Regions from separate parts of the Homo sapiens genome. Here regions 1, 3 and 4 are each reported to be linked to region 2. The links are microRNA targets in miRTarBase. Many come from high-throughput screens and were not tested one by one. Region 2 holds a microRNA gene; each other region holds the end of a gene's coding sequence.

Region 1 (5,711 bases), not on the chromosome of region 2:
CCACTTCCACGTCTTGTCCCACTGGAAGGTCTTCTGGGGCAGTAACATACATGGAGCTGTCATTTCCTAGGATAACAGTGCTGCCTTCTGGAAAACCTCCTTAAAGGGCCTGCCTGAGGCTGTTTTACAGTTAACATTTTTTTAAATAAGTAGAAGGAGTAAGTCTACAATAACAATAAAAGCATTGCATAATAAATACATGAGCCAGTAACAGTCACTTATTAAATATTACATAATGTACATAATTGTATGTGTTACACTTTTATGTAACAACTTTAAGCACTGTTTACACCAGTATCACCACAAACATGTAATGGGTTACACTACAGCCTTACAGTGGCTACCACGTCACTAAGCTATAGGAATGAATGAATGAATGAATTTATTTATTTAAGACAGGGTCTCGCTCTGTTGCCAGGACTGCAGTGCAGTGGTGCTATCTCGGTCCACTGCAACTTCTGCTTCCTGGGTTCAAGTGATTCTTATGCCTCAGCCTCCCAAGTAGCTGAGACTACAAGCGTACACCACCATGCCTGGCTAATTTTTGGATTTTTAGTAGAGATATGGTTTTGTCATGTTGGCCAGGTTGGTCTGGAACTCCTGGCCTCAAGTGGTCCTCCTGCCTTGGCCTCCCAGAGTGCTGGGATTACAGGCATGAGCCACTGCACCCAACTGAAATATTTTAGTTTCATTATAGTCTTACGGGACCACTGTGGTATATGAGGTCTGTTGTTCACTGAAATGTTCTGTGGTACATGATTGTACATGATTGTGTGCTATAAAAATTTAACATTTGACCAGTTATCACTGCCCGCTCCCTCACTTTTTGGAAGGCTAAAATTATCAATGATTTTCTAGGGTTTCACTTCTGTATATAACTAAAGCAGTGTTTAATGACAGGGAATTTGGGGCTGAGTCTGTGGTATAATTCTAAATTGTAATGTGTCATTTTTATGTTTTTGATTTTGTTTTAATAGAAAGCTTTTGATGTAAAAACTATTTTAACTTTACATCAATGTATATTATCCTGTGAAAATGTTTTGAAGATACTTAGATCTATTGTTGAAGATACAGATGCTTTGTATTATGTTTCAGATATGAGCAAGACAGTGGGCATGACAGTGGAAGTGAGGATGCCTGTTTTGATTCTTCACAACCATTTACCTTAGTTACTATAGGCATGCAGAAATTTTTTATACCCAAGTCACCTACTTCTTCTAATGAACCTGAAAATAGAGTTCTCCCTATGCCAACAAGTATTGGGATTTTCCTTGACTGTGATAAAGGCAAAGTAGATTTCTATGATATGGATCAGATGAAATGCCTTTATGAACGCCAAGTGGACTGTTCACATACACTGTATCCAGCATTTGCATTAATGGGCAGTGGAGGAATTCAGCTTGAAGAACCCATCACAGCAAAATATCTGGAATACCAAGAGGACATGTAGTTGAAACATCTGATGTGACTCAGGATAAAAACTGTAAACAAAGCAATGCCTTAGCGTTAACCTTCGTAACTAATTACATATCGCTGAGTGTTCTGTCACCCCACTTGTGTTTGAGTATGATTCTTCTTGAAATACAGAAAATCTAAACAGCCTTGTGTCTTCATGTCGTTGTTCTGCCTTTCACAAATGATGAAAGTGAAGATGTTCTTTCCAAGTTAATACTGAAGTGGTTAACTTTGCAACTGGACTGTCTTTTACTTTATGTACAGGATATCTAATTTATTTCTGTCAGCTGGTGTTGCTGACACTTTCCTTATGGTGGGGGGGATACAAAAGTATTTATTATGATTCTCTTCTGTTTGACTTTTCATTTTTATATCATGTTTATGTCCTAAGAGAAGATATTTTTTAAATGCCTTATGGATAGGAATTAGTACTAAGCAATGTGTCTTGCATTTGTTTTCAATAGGAAAACAAAGTTCTAGATAGGTTAAAAGAAAAACACCATAAAAGTGGTAGTATATTTAAGTGGAAAATTATGTATTTTAAAGTGTGTAACTATTAAAAATATATTGCCTGGAAAAGGAATACTACTGTTTTGTTTTGTTAAGACCACAAACTGTATTGCTAAGGACATTTTAAGAGTCTGCTTAGCCATAACACTCATTTAACAGCATGGGTAGTAAGCATGGTTTCTTGCAGAAAACACAAAGTTCTCAGCTAACACATTAAACTTCTCACTTTATATACTTTTTTTCAGAGAAATTTATCTTTAGTTTTTCTTATTCTGTGAAAATATTTGTTCTTATGTCAAAGAATTATTTTTCAGATATATTGGTAAAGATGGACTGATATTAAAAGTCATATTTATTCTTTTACCCCCTTACTGTGTTTTGTGATTTTCATTTTTGGCCCAATTATTACATATCAGGTTTTCCTGATTTATATTTACATGTTTGAAAAGTTCATTATATATTTTAGTAGCGTTACATATATTATAAATTTTTGTAACATTTAAATGTTCACTTATGTGGCATTTTCTGTTTCTCATTGGTAATAAGCATTTCTAATATAAGCAAGTAAAAATACAAATTTAATTACTTAGAAATGATAACTAAGATCACAATGACTGTGTACCCTTTAAAATATCTTTTAATTTGAGGAATTACATTCTATCTAAATTGTGTGTCTGTTTTTGAAAGGTGTTGCTTTCAAGTAGGTGGTTTTTATTTAAAGTACTTATTTTTTTGAGGTTAAAATATTCAGAAACTACTTTTATGCATTGTAGCAGTAATCATTTATGGAATGCTTTTGACATGTTTTAACAGGGTAACCAAAACTTTTAGGCCTGTTTTTTTTGGTTGTCCTTGTTGTTATATTTTTAATGGAAATCTGTTACTCAGGCTGGTAGCATTAAATTAGCTTTTTACCCTCAACTCAAGTAGCAAATATCATGGAGAACTTCAGTGTTTAGCAGGCTGTTAATTTCCCATCTATGAATAGCACTTTATGATGTAGGCTAAACTAAGCAAATAATGCAGCGTTATGTGGATCATTATGCAATAAAGCTGCTAAAGTCACATTTGTGGTTGATACTCAAGCCTTGTACAAGCACATATGATGTAGACATTTTTAAATGTGAAGCTTTAACAGGAATAGGATAGCTGTTTCAAACCTTGTGCAATTGTAAATAAATTGTTTAGCTGTGTTTCTTTCATTTTTAATAAAAAATTAAAAAGAATTCATGTGTAATTATTCAGATCTGCATTCCAGGAATTTTTAGTATGTTTACATGAAAAGTTGAAACAAACTGATTATGAAAAGATGATTAGCTGTACATATTAACTCAGAGCTACAGTTTTATATGAAATCATTTTGAACATTTATTTATTAGCTTAATTTCTGTGAAAGTGATTATTAGAGAAGCTTAACATAAAACTTCAATTGTTTCATATATTAAATTTTTTTAATATAAAACAATATAAAATTTTATTTTTTTATTACATAAGCTAATAATAATAGTGCAAGTTTGTTCTTTTATCCCCAAAGGAAAAATATGGTAAAAGTTATATCTTGACTAAGGATCTGAGGGTCAACATTTTAATACCAAAATGCTGTGTTTATAATTAATATATTCAAAATATACTCATCTTTAAACCAAATGTTATATACTAAAAGACATCAGAAAGTATCTACTAAATAGTACAATATAGTAACCACCTTGTAACACTGTACTTAATATAGCCCAGTTTTATAAAATACTGTAAATAGTTCTACCGTCTAAGCAATTCTAGATTTTATTTTTCCCTTTGTGCAACAAATCAGAATGCGTGATTATAGAATGCTAAAAGCTCTTGGAGATACTTTGCCAGGCATCTTTGAGGAGAAATTTTAGAGAATCAACGACACTTGATTAAGCATTTATGAACCATAAGTTTTTCTTCTGCTCTCCTGTGGAAAAAAAACAAACATAAAATAAAACAACAAACCATATTGGCAATTGCATATGTTTATAAACATTCCATTATTTTTTTTTTCTGTTTTAATTATCTTTTAAGATGAAATAATCTGTCCATAGGCTAGAGCAGCAAGTTTATGCAAGAGAATATGAAAACATCCTTCCTTCTAGTAGAATATGTATCCATAGTGCATGATGTCCACTGAAGTTTGTAATATTTTTACATGCAATGTTACTATTGCAGTTATTAACAACCTATAATGTTTTGCACATAGTAGGCTTTCAAATGCTGTTAGGATTCAACATGGGACATAAAGCCTAAGAATGGAACCAGATTCCCTAGGGTTTCAGTATTTGATTTCTAGATGACTAGAAGACTGCCCTGGTGTAATCTATGTGTCTTGGAATTTTTTTATGGTGATGAACAAAGTAAACATTTGACCTGGAAATCACTGGAAATATTCGAACCAAACAAAAGAGTAATAAAAAGTAAACCTATCCTTAACTTTAAAACCAAGCATGGGTTCTTCTGGTTGATGGGTGTATAGTTGAGAAAGCATATTTCTCCAGAACTATTCAGTTTCACTGACAGGGAAGTATTTTTTGGCACAATAACCAATTATTGAATTATTTTATTTTATTTTATTTTATTATACTTTAAGTTCTAGGGTACATACGCACAACACGCAGGTTTGTTACATATGTTTACATGTGCCATGTTGGTGTGCTGCACCCATTAACTCATCATTTACGTTATGTATATCTCCTAATGCTATCCCTCTCCCCTCCCCCACACCCCACAACAGGCCCCGGTATGTGATGTTCCCCACCCTGTGTCCAAGTGTTCTCATTGTGCATTTCCCACCTATGAGTGAGAACATGTGGTGTTTGGTTTTCTGTCCTTGCGATAGTTTGCTCAGAATGATGGATTCCAGCTTCATCCATGTCCCTACAAAGGACATGAACTCATCCTTTTTTAATGGCTGCATAGTATTCCATGGTGTATATGTGCCACATTTTCTTTATCCAGTCTATCATTGATGGACATTTGGGTTGGTTCCCAGTCCTTGCTATTGTGAATAGTGCCACAATAAACATACGTGTGCATGTTTCTTTATAGTAGCATGATTGATAATCCTTTGGGTTTATGCCCAGTAATGGGATGGCTGGGCCAAATGGTATTTCTGGTTGTAGATCCTTGAGGAATTGCCACACTGACTTCCCCAATGGTTGAACTAGTTTACAGTCCCATCAACAGTGTAAAAGTGTTCCTATTTCTCCACATCCTCTCCAGCACCTGTTGTTTCCTGACTTTTTAATGATTGCCATTCTAACTGGTGTGGGATGGTATCTCATTGTGGTTTTGATTTGCATTTCTCAGATGGCGAGTGATGATGAGCATTTTTTCATGTGTCTGTTGGCCACATAAATGTCTTCTTTTGAGAAGTGTCTGTTCATATCCTTTGCCCACTTTTTGATGGGGTTGTTTGATTTTTTCTTGTAAATTTGTTTAAGTTCTTTGTAGATTCTGGATATTAACCCTTTGTCAGGTGGGTAGATTGTAAAAATTTTCTCCCATTCTGTAGGTTGCCTGTTCACTCTGATAGTAGTTTCTTTTGCTGTGCAGAAGCTCTTTAGTTTACTTAGATCCCATTAGCCAATTTTGGCTTCTGTTGCCATTTCTTTTGGTGTTTAAGTCATGAAGTCCTTACCCATGCCTACGTCCTGAATGGTATTGCCTAGGTTTTCTTCTAGGGTTTTTATGGTTTTAGGTCTGACATTTAAGTCTTTAATCCATCTTGA
Region 2 (3,000 bases):
GCTCCTCCCGCCCTCTAGTGGTCACCGGGAGCCTTGCGGGGCTGGGCCGCGCAAGCTGAGGGGCCGCTCGGACCGGGCGGAGAGGAGTAAGGGCAGCGCTGCCTAAGTGAGGCAGCGAGAGCCCGCGAGAGGGAAGCAGGGCCCGGGAGAGAAGGGTCACTGCCGTGGCCAGGGAGGGAGGAACGCACAGCATGGTGGACGGCTGGGAGCTTTAGGAGGGGGCACTCCGGGACGCGTGGTGGTGGCGTCTGGAGGAAATGGAGCTAAGCGGGTGGGGTCCTGAGGTATGTGGAAGGGGCACCGAGGTATGTGGGAGAGGACGTTGGAACGTGGGCGGGGGAGTTGGACACGTTCTGTGTGGGCCGTTATGTACTTAAGAGGCAGATCGGGCGTGGCACGGTGGCTCACGCCCGTAATCCCAACACTTTGGAAGGCCGAGGCGAGTGGATCACAAGGTCAGGGGTTCAAGACCAGCCTGGCCAAGATGGTGAAACCTCGTCTCTACTAAAAACTACAAAAATTAGCCGAGCGTGGTGGCGGGCGCTGTAACCCCAGCTACTCAGGAGGCTGAGGCAGGAGAATCGCTTGAACCCGGGAGGCGGAGGTTGCAGTGAGCCGAGATCGCGCCATTGCACTCCAGCCTGGGCGACAGAGCAAGACTCCGTCTCAAAACAAAAAAGGGGGGGGCAGAGAGTAGGTGGGGTGACAGAATGGGATTTACGGACACAGAACTATCCTTTGGGGAGCAGAGTGGTATTGGGGACAGGTAGGCACGTAGCGGGGGGCAAAAGCACACGTGAGGTGCGTAATGCGCGACAGCCAAGAGGTGTGTGCGGCAGCAGTGCACGAGGGGAGGAAGCTATCCCAGGCCGCGGCAGCACGTGGAACTTGGGTCCCGCAGTCGCAGGCTGCGCTCTAGGCCGACGGAAGCAGTTCCGCCTGTATTCAGAAAACAGTTCTCAGCCCCAAAGACACAGGTTGGAAAGAACACTTTAAAAACACTTCGGCGAGGCACGGGATTGGAGCGCATCAGATCAGCAGGCGAGAGACCACAGCTCTCGCCCGCGCGCCGCGCGGCGCCCGAGGCGCAGCTTTGTGTGCGGCGAGACCCTGGGGCAGGCGCTGGGCGGGGTGGGGACATCTGACGTCAGCGCGCCCGGGAGCGCGGGCCGGGGAGGCGGGGAGCCCCCCAACTCGCAGGCCGGAGAAAACACGAGTAGCTAGGTGGGCGGCCCCAAACCTCAACTCCCGGCATTGCCAAGCAACAGCCATTCAGTTCGGTTGCTGGGACACGCGTCACCATGGCGACGGCTCCGCGCCGCGCAGTCTGAGTACTTAAAGAGCAAGCGCGCGCAACGCCCGGGCGTCGGAAAGCGGCCTTCTGGGACTCCGCAAACTCCCGTTCTCCCTCCCCCCTCCCCCTTGCCATTCCCTTTGCCTTCCGGGCGCCAAGTCTCTCTGGCCTCCAAGGTGAACCCAACTCCCCAGCGCGCCCCGGGTTCCCGGGTCGGGCCGGCTTCAGGCGGTGGGGAGCGGGATCCCGGGCCCCGGGCGGGCGGGAGGGACGGGACGCGGTGCAGTGTTGTTTTTTCCCCCGCCAATATTGCACTCGTCCCGGCCTCCGGCCCCCCCGGCCCCCCGGCCTCCCCGCTACCCCTAGCGGGGCAGCCCCCGCCCTCCTGGCTCTCCATCCCGGCGGATCTTTGATAGACTGGAGTGTCGCCGCTGCCACCGTGAGTAAGTGGGTCTGGGAGGACTTCGGGCATCCTCCCTCAGGCACCCTATCCTTCACTTAACTCCATCCAGCACCTCCCCCACCCGCATCCCCAAATCAGCCAAACTTCCCCTAGATCCCTAACTTCCACCCTCCCAGGCTTTCTCTTCTACTCGCCGATTCCTTCCACTTCCCCACCCTATCCCGGAAAATCCCTAAAATAAGCAGTTGCACTGGCTTAGAAAACAACCAAAACTTTATGGCAATGTGCTGTCATCTTTCCTGGGGTTAGTGCCTGAGTAATACCCCTTGAAAACTTCTCATCCCCTGAAGGGTGGGGTGACCACCCCTCTGGGACTGAACTCCTTTTGGGAGCCAGAGAAGGGTCTGTGGTTGGCTGAGGGGCTGTAGCTTAGACCTCAGGGTCTCCAGGATGGACCCCAAGGCCAAAGGGTCTAAAATTCTGAATTCTGAATCTGGTGGCCTCCTCCTCACACCCTTCCCTGGAGCAGCTGCCTCCGGAATGGCTCAAAGTCCTCAGGCACTGTGTCTGAAGAAGGGGAAATAAGTAAGGTCAGAGGATGTGGCTCTCCCACAAGGCATGAAGGATTAGGTTGATCTCAATCAGCCACCTCACCATTGCATCGATACTGGAGATTGGACCAAATTATGTTTTCTTGGGAGAAGCAGAATACACCAAGACGCCCCCCTCGCATGGATGTGTCAATGATCACCCCAGAATCCGCCACAAGCTGGGGTCCCTCATAGAGCTTCACCCTGTCCAGGATTCCAGGATAGGAGTATCCATTGGTGCTAGGGTGCCAGTGGGCACTGTGCCACCATGCCTGGGGCCTTGCTTTTCCCCAGCCCCCCTTGAGCTCACCAGGCCTGAGAGAGAAGGGAGGGAGGGAAAGGGAGGCAGGAAGGAGAGGGAAGGGGGGTGCTTTTCTCAGGCCTGGGGCCCCTAGCTCTTTGTCCAGCTCCTTTTGCATCTCAAAGCACCAGCCGCATTCCAAGCGAGGATTGGGTTGCCATGACAATAAGCACAATGGGCTGGGGGGTGAAGTCACCCGCTTCCCAGGCTCTAGTCCACCCCCTTTTATCCCCTGTCCTGGCACCCCACAGCCCCAGGCACCTTAAAGGGGAACCAACCCAGGTTCCTGGACTCTGGGCTCTTGGCCATGGAAAGTCCAGCCTCTAAGCAGACCCATTTCCCCTCCCTTCCTGTTCATCTCCACCAACTAGGGCTACTTGTTGGAGAGAAATGCAAAGTTGTGGACAAAGTG
Region 3 (5,711 bases), not on the chromosome of region 2:
GGCCTGGTTGAGATAACATGGTGTTTTCCTGATAGCGATGATAGAAAGGAAAACCCCTTTTTCCAAAAGCCTGTTGCTCTGGCTAATCTCCGTGGAAATCTAGAAAGCTTTTGGACTCAGTTTGGTTTTTTGATGGAAGTTTCTTCAGCTGTGTTTTTTTTCACTGACTGTTTAGGTGAGAAGGAATGGGACTTGCTAATGTTTTTAGGAGAGGCTGCCATTGAAAGATGCTACTTTGTTCTCAGTTCCCAAGCCAGGGAGAGTGAAGAGGCTCAAATTTTTCAGAGGATACTGAACTTGAAGCCAGCACAGCTACTGTTTTGGGAGAGGGGAGATGCTGGGGATAGAAGGAAGAACATGGAGGGCCTTCAAGCTGCCCTCCAGGAAGTGATGTTCTCTTCTTGCCTCAGATGTGTGTCTGTGGAGGATATGGCCGCCCTGGCCAGGGAGCTGGGGATTCAGGTAGATGAAGACTTTGAAAACACTCAGAGAATTCAAGTTTCCTCTGGAGAAAACATGGCTGGGACAGCTGAAGGTGAGGGTCAGCAAAGACACAGTCAGCTAAAAAGCTCATCTAAAAGCCAGGCTCTAATGCCAATTCAAGAGCCTGGGACTCAATGTGAGCTCAGCCAGAATCTTCAGAATCTCTATGGTACCCCAGTATTCAGGCCTGTTCTAGAGAACTCCTGGCTCTTTCCAACCAGAATTGGAGGTAACTTTAACCATGTTTCCTTGAAAGCCTCCTGGGTTATGGGCCGCCCCTTTGGGTCAGAGCAGAGGCCTAAGTGGTTCCATCCTTTGCCTTTTCAGAATGCAGGGGCCCAGGGCCGAGGTAAAAGTTTTGGTATTCAATCCTTCCATCCCCAGATATTTTATTCAGGTGAAAGATTCATGAAATTTTCCAGAGTTGCTCGGGGATGTCACTCGAATGGAACATTTGGGAGACTGCCAAGACCCATTTGTCAGCATGTACAGGCCTGCCCTGAGAGACCACAAATGATGGGAACTCTTGAAAGGTCTAGGGCAGTAGCCTCCAAGATAGGTCACTCCTATTCCCTGGATTCACAGCCAGCAAGAGCAGTAGGGAAGCCATGGCCTCAGCAAGCTTGCACCAGGGTAACAGAGTTAACTGAAGCAACTGGAAAACTGATAAGAACATCCCATATTGGAAAGCCTCACCCTCAGTCCTTTCAACCAGCAGCAGCCACACAAAAACTAAGACCTGCTTCTCAGCAAGGAGTCCAGATGAAGACACAAGGTGGGGCTTCAAATCCAGCTCTCCAAATAGGGTCCCATCCCATGTGCAAGAGCTCTCAGTTCAAATCCGATCAGTCCAACCCATCCACAGTCAAACACTCCCAGCCTAAACCCTTCCATTCTGTGCCCTCTCAACCTAAATCCTCTCAGACAAAATCCTGTCAGTCCCAGCCCTCCCAAACTAAACCTTCTCCATGCAAATCTACTCAGCCTAAGCCAAGCCAGCCCTGGCCTCCCCAGTCTAAGCCTTCTCAGCCCAGACCCCCTCAACCTAAGTCATCCTCAACCAATCCTTCACAAGCTAAGGCACACCACTCAAAAGCAGGGCAGAAGAGGGGAGGGAAGCATTAAAGAGCTAACTCCAGAGATCTATAAAGCATATCCTTTACCCAGGCCATTCCTATCATATAGTAAGCAGAAGAGTTGCCATGAAAGTAAAAGACTACTGTCATTAGCATGTAAAACAAAGAAAGATATACATGACTGAATTGGATATCTTTGTTTGTTTGTTTGAGACAGAGTTTCACTCTTGTTGCCCAGGCTGGAGTGCAATGGCACGATCTCGGCTCACCGCAACCTCTGCTTCCTGGCTTAAAGTGATTCTCCTGCCTCAGCCTCTCGAGTAGCTGGGATTACAGGCATGCACCACCACACCCAGCTAATTTTGTATTTTTAGTAGAGGCAGGGTTTCTCCATGTTGGTCAGGCTGGTCTTGAACTCCCGACCTCAGGTGATCCGCCCACCTAGGCCTCTCAAAGTGTTGGGATTACGTGTGTAAGCCACAGTGCCCAGCCCGAATTGGATATCTTTAAGATATCTGTAAGTGTTATATCCCTAACCAAGAAGAAAAATATGAAAATAATTAAGACTAGAATCAAGCAGTAGATAATTGAATCCAATCTTGGGTATTATTAGATAATGTATAACTTGCACCCAGGGAATGGGGGTCTATGAGACAACCCCACTTGGAGAAGAATGGGGTTAGGGTCTCTAATTGCAAAGTGACTGTACAATAGGACGAAAGTTGCCTCTGTGTCTGAGAAAGTATCTTAGTTGTTGGCTGCTCCAGAGGTATCTTTGTCAAAAGCTTCTGGTTCAATATCAGCCACTGAGCAGATAACCCTGCTTATTTGGTGTGGTTAAATCAACTAGCTTCTGCTAATAGCCCCAATTTGCTTGAATGGGAAAACTCTCTCATTTGACCCTTATAGGTAGAAATAATGAATTAACAACCAATAAAATTAATCATTTGGCATTAACTTTGTGAAAGATCTATGTTTGTTTCATATTTGATATGGTTTGGCTCTGTCTCCACCCAAATCTTATCTCGAATTGTAATCCCCATGTCCCTCAGGAGGGACCAGGGACCTGGTGGGAGGTGATTGGATTATGGGGCCGGTTTCCTCCATGCTGTTCCTGTGATAGTGAGTGAGTTCTCACGAGATCTGATGATTTATTTTTATTTTTTTGAGATGGAATCTCGCTCTGTCACCGAGGCTGGAGTGCAGTGACATGAACTTGGCTCATTGCAACCTCTACCTCCCAGGTTCAAGCAATTTTCCTGCCTCATCCTCCCAAGTAGCTGGGATTACAGGTGTCTGCCACCACACTTAGCTAATTTTTGTATTTAGTAGAGATGCAGTTTCACCATGTTGGCCAGGCTGGTCTCAGACTCCTGATCGCAAGTAATCCACCTACCTTGGCCTCCCATACTGCTGGGATCACAGACATGAGCCACCAAGTCCAGCCGAGATCTGATGGTTTAAAAGTGTGCCACTTACCCCCTTGTTCTCTCTGTCTTCTGTCGCCACGTAAGACATACCTTGCTTCCTCTTCACCTTCCATCATGATTGTGTTTCCTGAGGCCTCCCCAGCCATGCAGATCTGTGAGTCAATAACTTCTTTCCTTTATAAATTACTCAGTCTCAGATAGTTCTTTTTTTTTTTTTTAGATGGAGTCTTGCTCCGTCACCCAGGCTGGAGTGCAGTGGCGCACGCCGATCTTGGCTCACTGCAACCTCTGCCTCCTGGCTTCAAGCGATTCTCCTGCCTCAGCCTCCCAAGTAGCTGGGACTACAGGCGCCTGCCACCACGCCTGGCTAATTTTTGTATTTTTAGTAGAGACAGGGTTTCATCATGTTTGCCAGGCTGGTCTCGAACTCCTGACCTTGTGATCTACCTGCCTCAGCCTCTCAAAGTTTTGGGATTACAGGCGTGAGCCACCGTGCACGGCCTCAGGTAGTTCTTTATAGCAGTGTGAAAACAGACTAATACAATAGTTTAAATATTTGTAATAGTTAAGAAAATTGGACTTATTAGAGGGTCTGGTATTAATATACTAATACCTCATGATTCAAATTTAAAATGTTATTGAGTTTTCTTTTTTTTTTTTATACTTTAAGTTTTAGGGTACATGTGCACATTGTGCAGGTTAGTTACATATGTATACATGTGCCATACTGGTGCGCTGCACCCACTAACTCGTCATCTAGCATTAGGTGTATCTCCCAATGCCATCCCTCCCCCCTCCCCCCACCCCACCACAGTCCCCAGAGTGTGATATTCCCATTCCTGTGTCCCTGTGATCTCATTGTTCAATTCCCACCTATGAGTGAGAATATGCGGTGTTTGGTTTTTTGTTCTTGCGATAGTTTACTGAGAATGATGATTTCCAATTTCATCCATGTCCCTACAAAGGACATGAACTCATCATTTTTTATGGCTGCATAGTATTCCATGGTGTATATGTGCCACATTTTCTTAATCCAGTCTATCATTGTTGGACATTTGGGTTGGTTCCAAGTCTTTGCTATTGTGAATAATGCCACAATAAACATACGTGTGCATGTGTCTTTATAGCAGCATGATTTATAGTCCTTTGGGTATATACCCAGTAATGGGATGGCTGGGTCAAATGGTATTTCTAGTTCTAGATCCTTGAGGAATCGCCACACTGACTTCCACAATAGTTGAACTAGTTTACAGTCCCACCAACAGTGTAAAAGTGTTCCTATTTCTCCACATCCTCTCCAGCACCTGTTGTTTCCTGACTTTTTAATGATTGCCATTCTAACCAGTGTGAGATGGTATCTCATTGTGGTTTTGATTTGCATTTCTCTGATGGCCAGTGATATGTTAATGAGTTTTCAGTTTTAGAGTTGTAATTTTCTTAAGTTAAAAGATAAGTTTACAAAAAACATTGAAATGTTAAAGAGAACTTAAGATTCACAAAATTTATACTTTTATTAGATTCATATTATTCTAAACATTTGGGTAAATTCTGCTTGTTAGAGGCATTAAGGAAAAATAGTGTATTAAATTTAAAATATTTAAGTCACATTTAGTTAACTAGGTTTGTAAATGACATCAAATATGGATAAAAGGACACTTTAAAAGTATCTGTTAAAAGTCACTAGATTAAGAATAAAATAATAACATTTATAAATTGAACTTAATAGCTTCAGTTTGTGAATTGGCAACTCTAGTAAAATTAATATTAATTTAAAGCACTACAGTAGTCCCCAAATAGTCTTTCATATGTAAAAAAAGTACCTTCAAGTACATCAAAAAAGAAAAAGTCATATTGACAAATGAATGAGAGCTGGTCTTTGAAAAGCAATAATTAATCCTTGAGAATGGTATCATATCACAACAGATATTTTTCCTTTGTGCATGTATTAAACAATCAATATTGAGTGTGTCCATGTTTTTTTTTTTTTTTTTTTTTTTGAGACGGAGTCTCTCTCTGTTGCCTAGGCTTGGAGTGCAGTGGCACAATCTCAGCTCACTACAACCTCCTCCTCCCGGGTTCAAGTGATTCTCCTGCCTCAGCCTCCCAAGTAGCTGGGATTACAGGCATGCCCCACCAAGCCCAGCTAATTTTTGTGTTTCTCAGTAGAGATGGGGTTTCACCATGTTGGCTGGGCTGGTCTTGAACTCCTGACCTCAAGTGATCTGCCCGCCTTGGCCTCCCAAAGTGCTGGGATTACAGGTGTGAGCCACCATGCCTGGCCCTAAAGGAAGTATTTCTAAAGGGCTGAACAAGATAAAGGGAAAGAAAATGCAAAGGAGAGTGCAGTACCCTGGATCCAGTAAAAGCACTCTAGAGAGGAGAAGAAAGTGCCTTCCCCAGTCAGAAGAGCTGTATGGAAATGGTCTTAGGTCTAGTTGGTTGAGGGATACAGCAAGCTACAGTGAGTGACCTGAAGCAAATAAATATCTCCTCCCTACCTCAGGTCGGCTGCTGGTGCATCTCCTTGGCCCAACCCAATCAGAAGCCAGAGGGTAAGGTAGCCCGTCCAGGCAGCCCATGTAGACCAGCCTTTTAGGATTTAGAGAAGAATGGACAGTGAATTTGCAGGGTCAAGCAGGAGACGTCCAGCAGATTCCTCCCTTTCCATCCCATTCTTCTTTCCTTTTCTTTTTTTTCTTTCTTCCTTCTCTAACATTTATTT
Region 4 (3,579 bases), not on the chromosome of region 2:
GCTGGGGAGCCAGTATGAGCTCATAAACCAAACAGCAATTTTCAGAGACATCTGTTCCTGATCTTCAGAATAAACTCAGTGTCCAGTTGCTTCGGCTGGTGGGAGCCAATATTCACGCCACTGACTCTCTCAAAGGGAGGGTGGGCCCTCGGAGACCCAGCTTCTCTGACAAGCAGATTAGACCAAAAGGCTGCCTCAAAGATATGCCACTTTGAAGGAAAGCGTAGAGAAGCGTTTACATAAAAGAAGACGCTTCCTGTTCAGTGGACAACTTCATGCCACTTTCAAGGCACACCGATGGCCAGGTGGGACATTTGTACTGTAGCAGCACATGGCAAAGGTGAGCCAGAAGCAGCCTGGATGCTGGCTGATCCGGAGGCCTTTGTGAAGAGCAAGGAGAGGGCTCCAGCCCACCTCCCCGCAGCTCTGCCCCAGCCCCCGTGGGCCACAGGGAGGCTCAAGGGGAGTGAACTAGGTAAACAGATTCCTGGAAACTCACATCTGGATGCAGCTGGAAGAGTTAAATATTTACATTGGTGGCTTCCCTGGACCACCGCGAACACAAACATCCACACCACAGGGCTGAGTTTTGTGCAAATGATGGGGCTTTGCATTTTTTATTAACATTTTCCTCTCACGTGGTTTACATCAATTTATAATAATCTACATAAGTTGAAACAGAACATAGACAAAAAAATATATCCTTACCAACTTATTAAAGTCAGATATTCATGAAGGGTCCCATCCTACCTGTGTATCAGCAGAAACTGGCAGCCATCAGCCATTGCCCAGCAAGAACAGGCAGACCTGGCGTTTCTTAGCCTGACTCCTGCTGGGCACAGCCCACCCTGCTGGGCACAGTGACTGGAGGTTCCAGGCTGCACAGTCCCTGGCTCCTGACTCCTGCCGGGCGCAGTGACTGGAGGTTTCGGGCTGCATGGTCCCCGGCTCACAGGAGACCCTGCTGGGTGTTTCCTTGGTGCAGTTTAGTCCAGGTCTGGCACCTGACCCTCCCCACTCTGGGGGTGGGATTTATAAATATGAGCCTTTGCATTTCTCAGCCTTTGCAGCCTTCCCATAGCCTGTTCTCACGTTGCCTCAGCGAGCTTGGGGCTGTGGGGCTCCCTGAGGCTGAGACGCGAAGGTGCCCAGTCTGGGCCGTGACTCACTCTGCCCCTTCCTGTCCATCACTTTGGAAGCAAGCAGGAGCCTTCTGTGCCACACACCGACACTCGGATGCCAGGCAGGGACCTTAGGAAGGGCCAGGCACTGCATCTTTAGACTCAAGTTCACCGCCTTTCCCAGGGAGCAAGGGCTCCTTGCTAAGCTGCTCACAGGCAGCCGATGGTCAGTACTTCCTTCCTCTTGGGCATGTCTTTCCTCCGTGCACAGAGTATTTACTGTTCTGCCCAAGGCCACAGGAGTAAACAGGCTCAAAAAGGGCCTCTCACCGCGCACGCGCTGCAGCGTTAGGGCCGGCAAACCCTTCTTTAAGACTCAGCCCTGAGCACAAGCAATGGGAACTGAGCTCCCCAGCCCTGAGGGCCCGGAAACGACGCTCTGCCACACAGAAGAGCCGGGGAGCTGTAACTGGCTATAAGTCGAGCCCCTGGAGCTGCATCTGCTCTCCTAGGCTGATGGCCCGAGGCTGGCAGCCGCAGCTCGTGTGGGAAGTGTACGGTGGGAACACACCTCACTCCTTCCTAGTACCGGGCAATGCGTCTGCAAGTCGGGTCCCTGCTCCCTGGCGGGTGCCTACAGCACCAACAAGGAGGCCCCAGCAGAACCCAGCCCCTAGAGGCGGCTGTCTGATTCCCCACTCTCCCCACAACTTCTGGAGTTCCCAGTGTTTACCCAAAAGGCTGTATCCAGAAGCTGGGGCGGCACCACAATGGCTGGCCACCGTGGGCCTGTGCCTTTGCTTCCCAGGTCCTGGAGGACCGTGGCAGTGCTTGGCTGTGGAGTGTGTGTAAAATCTAAGGCAAGAGTACCACGAGGTCCTGCGGTGCCAGGGAGCTCCTGGCTGCAGCCTACCTGCCTGGACACCTGCTTCGGCCACATCAGTCACCCTCCAGGAAGCCTGGCCCCTCTTGAAAAGCCCCCACAACTTGCTCCTAAGAGCTGAGCTGCCTCCCCGCGACCCGGGACACCCAGCGTGGCATGTGCATTCCTCCCCCGTTCAGCCTGTGGTGTTTCCTCAGCAGCCTGACCGCCTCCTCCCCCATTCTCTCCTGACCCTCTGGCTATCTCGATAGCAGGTCACCTGTGAGTCTTTACACTCAAAGGAAATAGAACAGCAGGGAAGGGAACTGAAAAGCAGTAGAAGAAACAGTCAGAGATGCCTCACTGATAGACAGGAGGCCGAACAGGTAAACCCCAGAAGTGGAGATTCCCAAACGGAAAATTCCAGAAATGGGCGCTCCAGCTCTGTGCTAAGCTGGGGACGAGTGTGAGTGTGTCTGCTTGTCCAACATTTGCACAGGCAGCAAGGCAAAGCAGGTGTGCTCCCAAAGGCGGAGTCTGAGGAGGGGCCGGCAGCGGCAAACGGCAGCATCAAACAGACCACTGCTGCCGCGGCAACCCAGGGCCTCTTCAGAGCTTTCAAGGCGATGGAGCGAAGACCAAGGGTGCACATGCATGCAGGCAGGCTGGGAAGGAAGAGCGGGTGGAGGAAGACTGAGGGGAGGCTGCCAGGAGACCGCCATCTGGGAGCAGGGCCAAGAGAGAAGCTGGCAGCAGTTACACAGCGCAAAATAAAAGGCCTTGGGCTGGACTCAGGCGGAAAGAAAGTGCTGGAGGAAATGAAAGAACAAAGCGGGCTGTCTGTGTGCCCACGCCGGGCCGGTCACTACCTTTTCTGCCTGACAAGTGTACATAAAACAATTCCCGAACAGCACGGAGCATCAGACACAACTAGAGGTATGGAGGGCAGGAGGTGGGATGCGGTGGTGAGGCTGGGGCTGGGCAGCCGGCTTTGTACAAGGTGGCACAAAAGACGTACGCATTCCAGTTCTTGGAAGCTGGCTTCCCTCGAGTCTGGAGTGCTGGGTTTGGGAGTTTTCTATTGCAGTCTTTCAAGTCTGAGTTGGACCCCAGGCTGGAGGGGCTGGTTCCACCACCCGCCCGCAGCCACCCTGCCTCGGGCTACACGTCGGTGGAGAAGTACAGTGTGTTCCGCTTGAGTTCTGCGAAGGAAATGGGGGGGTGCTGCAGGTAGTAGAGGAGGACCTGGACCTGTGGGGAGACAGGAAGGCGGAGGCTGGGCTCCCTGTCCTAGGCCTCGTCCTTGCTGACTCCAGCCTGTGTTGCCCCTCCCACTCCCTAGACTGGCTCCGGCCACCGCCCCTTCCTGGGGAGCCCAGGTGTGTTTGCCTTTCTGCAGCCGTGGAAGGTGCTACGGGGCAGAGGGTCGGGGGCCTAGGGCCACTTCCCCAACCTGGCCATAAGCTTCTGCTCTGTCCTGAGGCGGCCACAGTCCGGCCCCTGCTCTGGGTCTTGCAGGAATCCCAGGGAAGCCTCCCGCCCTTGGAAGCAACCTCAGAGCTTCCACCCATGAGGACAAGGGCCCAGCATCTCCCC

What was found. The annotated mature microRNA hsa-miR-92b-3p reads UAUUGCACUCGUCCCGGCCUCC and lies in region 2 at 1,602-1,623, shown strand. An mRNA with a match to its seed (bases 2 to 7 or 8) in the 3' UTR can be bound and repressed. Matches are read on the target gene's strand: a 7mer-m8 pairs with bases 2 to 8, a 7mer-A1 pairs with bases 2 to 7 and ends in A, and an 8mer does both.
Region 1: miRTarBase lists TRIM36 as a target of hsa-miR-92b-3p. Seed matches in the 3' UTR shown: 7mer-A1 at 3,009-3,015 and 7mer-m8 at 3,129-3,135.
Region 3: miRTarBase lists CARD6 as a target of hsa-miR-92b-3p. Seed matches in the 3' UTR shown: 7mer-m8 at 1,804-1,810.
Region 4: miRTarBase lists ABR as a target of hsa-miR-92b-3p. Seed matches in the 3' UTR shown: 7mer-A1 at 3,063-3,069.

What each region holds. Positions count from the first base shown.
Region 1 is chr5:115,122,242-115,127,952 of GRCh38, reverse strand. It overlaps TRIM36 (tripartite motif containing 36), which reads left to right. Exons shown (of 10, transcript NM_001300759.2): 10 at 1,096-3,181. The coding sequence ends at 1,450. Among named protein-coding and RNA genes, the nearest start is that of TRIM36, 45 kb to the left of the region's middle.
Region 2 is chr1:155,193,636-155,196,635 of GRCh38, forward strand. MIR92B (microRNA 92b) reads left to right here and starts at 1,542; the gene lies at 1,542-1,637. THBS3 (thrombospondin 3) reads right to left here. Exons shown (of 23, transcript NM_007112.5): 22 at 2,352-2,491; 23 at 1,953-2,264. The coding sequence ends at 2,206. THBS3-AS1 (THBS3 antisense RNA 1) reads left to right here and starts at 1,362. Exons shown (of 6, transcript NR_183238.1): 1 at 1,362-1,737. RefSeq lists a silencer at 1,045-1,374 and an enhancer at 2,531-3,000.
Region 3 is chr5:40,852,839-40,858,549 of GRCh38, forward strand. CARD6 (caspase recruitment domain family member 6) reads left to right here. Exons shown (of 3, transcript NM_032587.4): 3 at 1-2,516. The coding sequence ends at 1,608. Among named protein-coding and RNA genes, the nearest start is that of CARD6, 14 kb to the left of the region's middle.
Region 4 is chr17:1,002,936-1,006,514 of GRCh38, forward strand. It overlaps ABR (ABR activator of RhoGEF and GTPase), which reads right to left. Exons shown (of 23, transcript NM_021962.5): 23 at 584-3,234. The coding sequence ends at 3,145. It overlaps TIMM22 (translocase of inner mitochondrial membrane 22), which reads left to right. Exons shown (of 4, transcript NM_013337.4): 4 at 1-736. Among named protein-coding and RNA genes, the nearest start is that of TIMM22, 7.6 kb to the left of the region's middle. RefSeq lists an enhancer at 2,009-2,767 and a silencer at 2,014-2,308.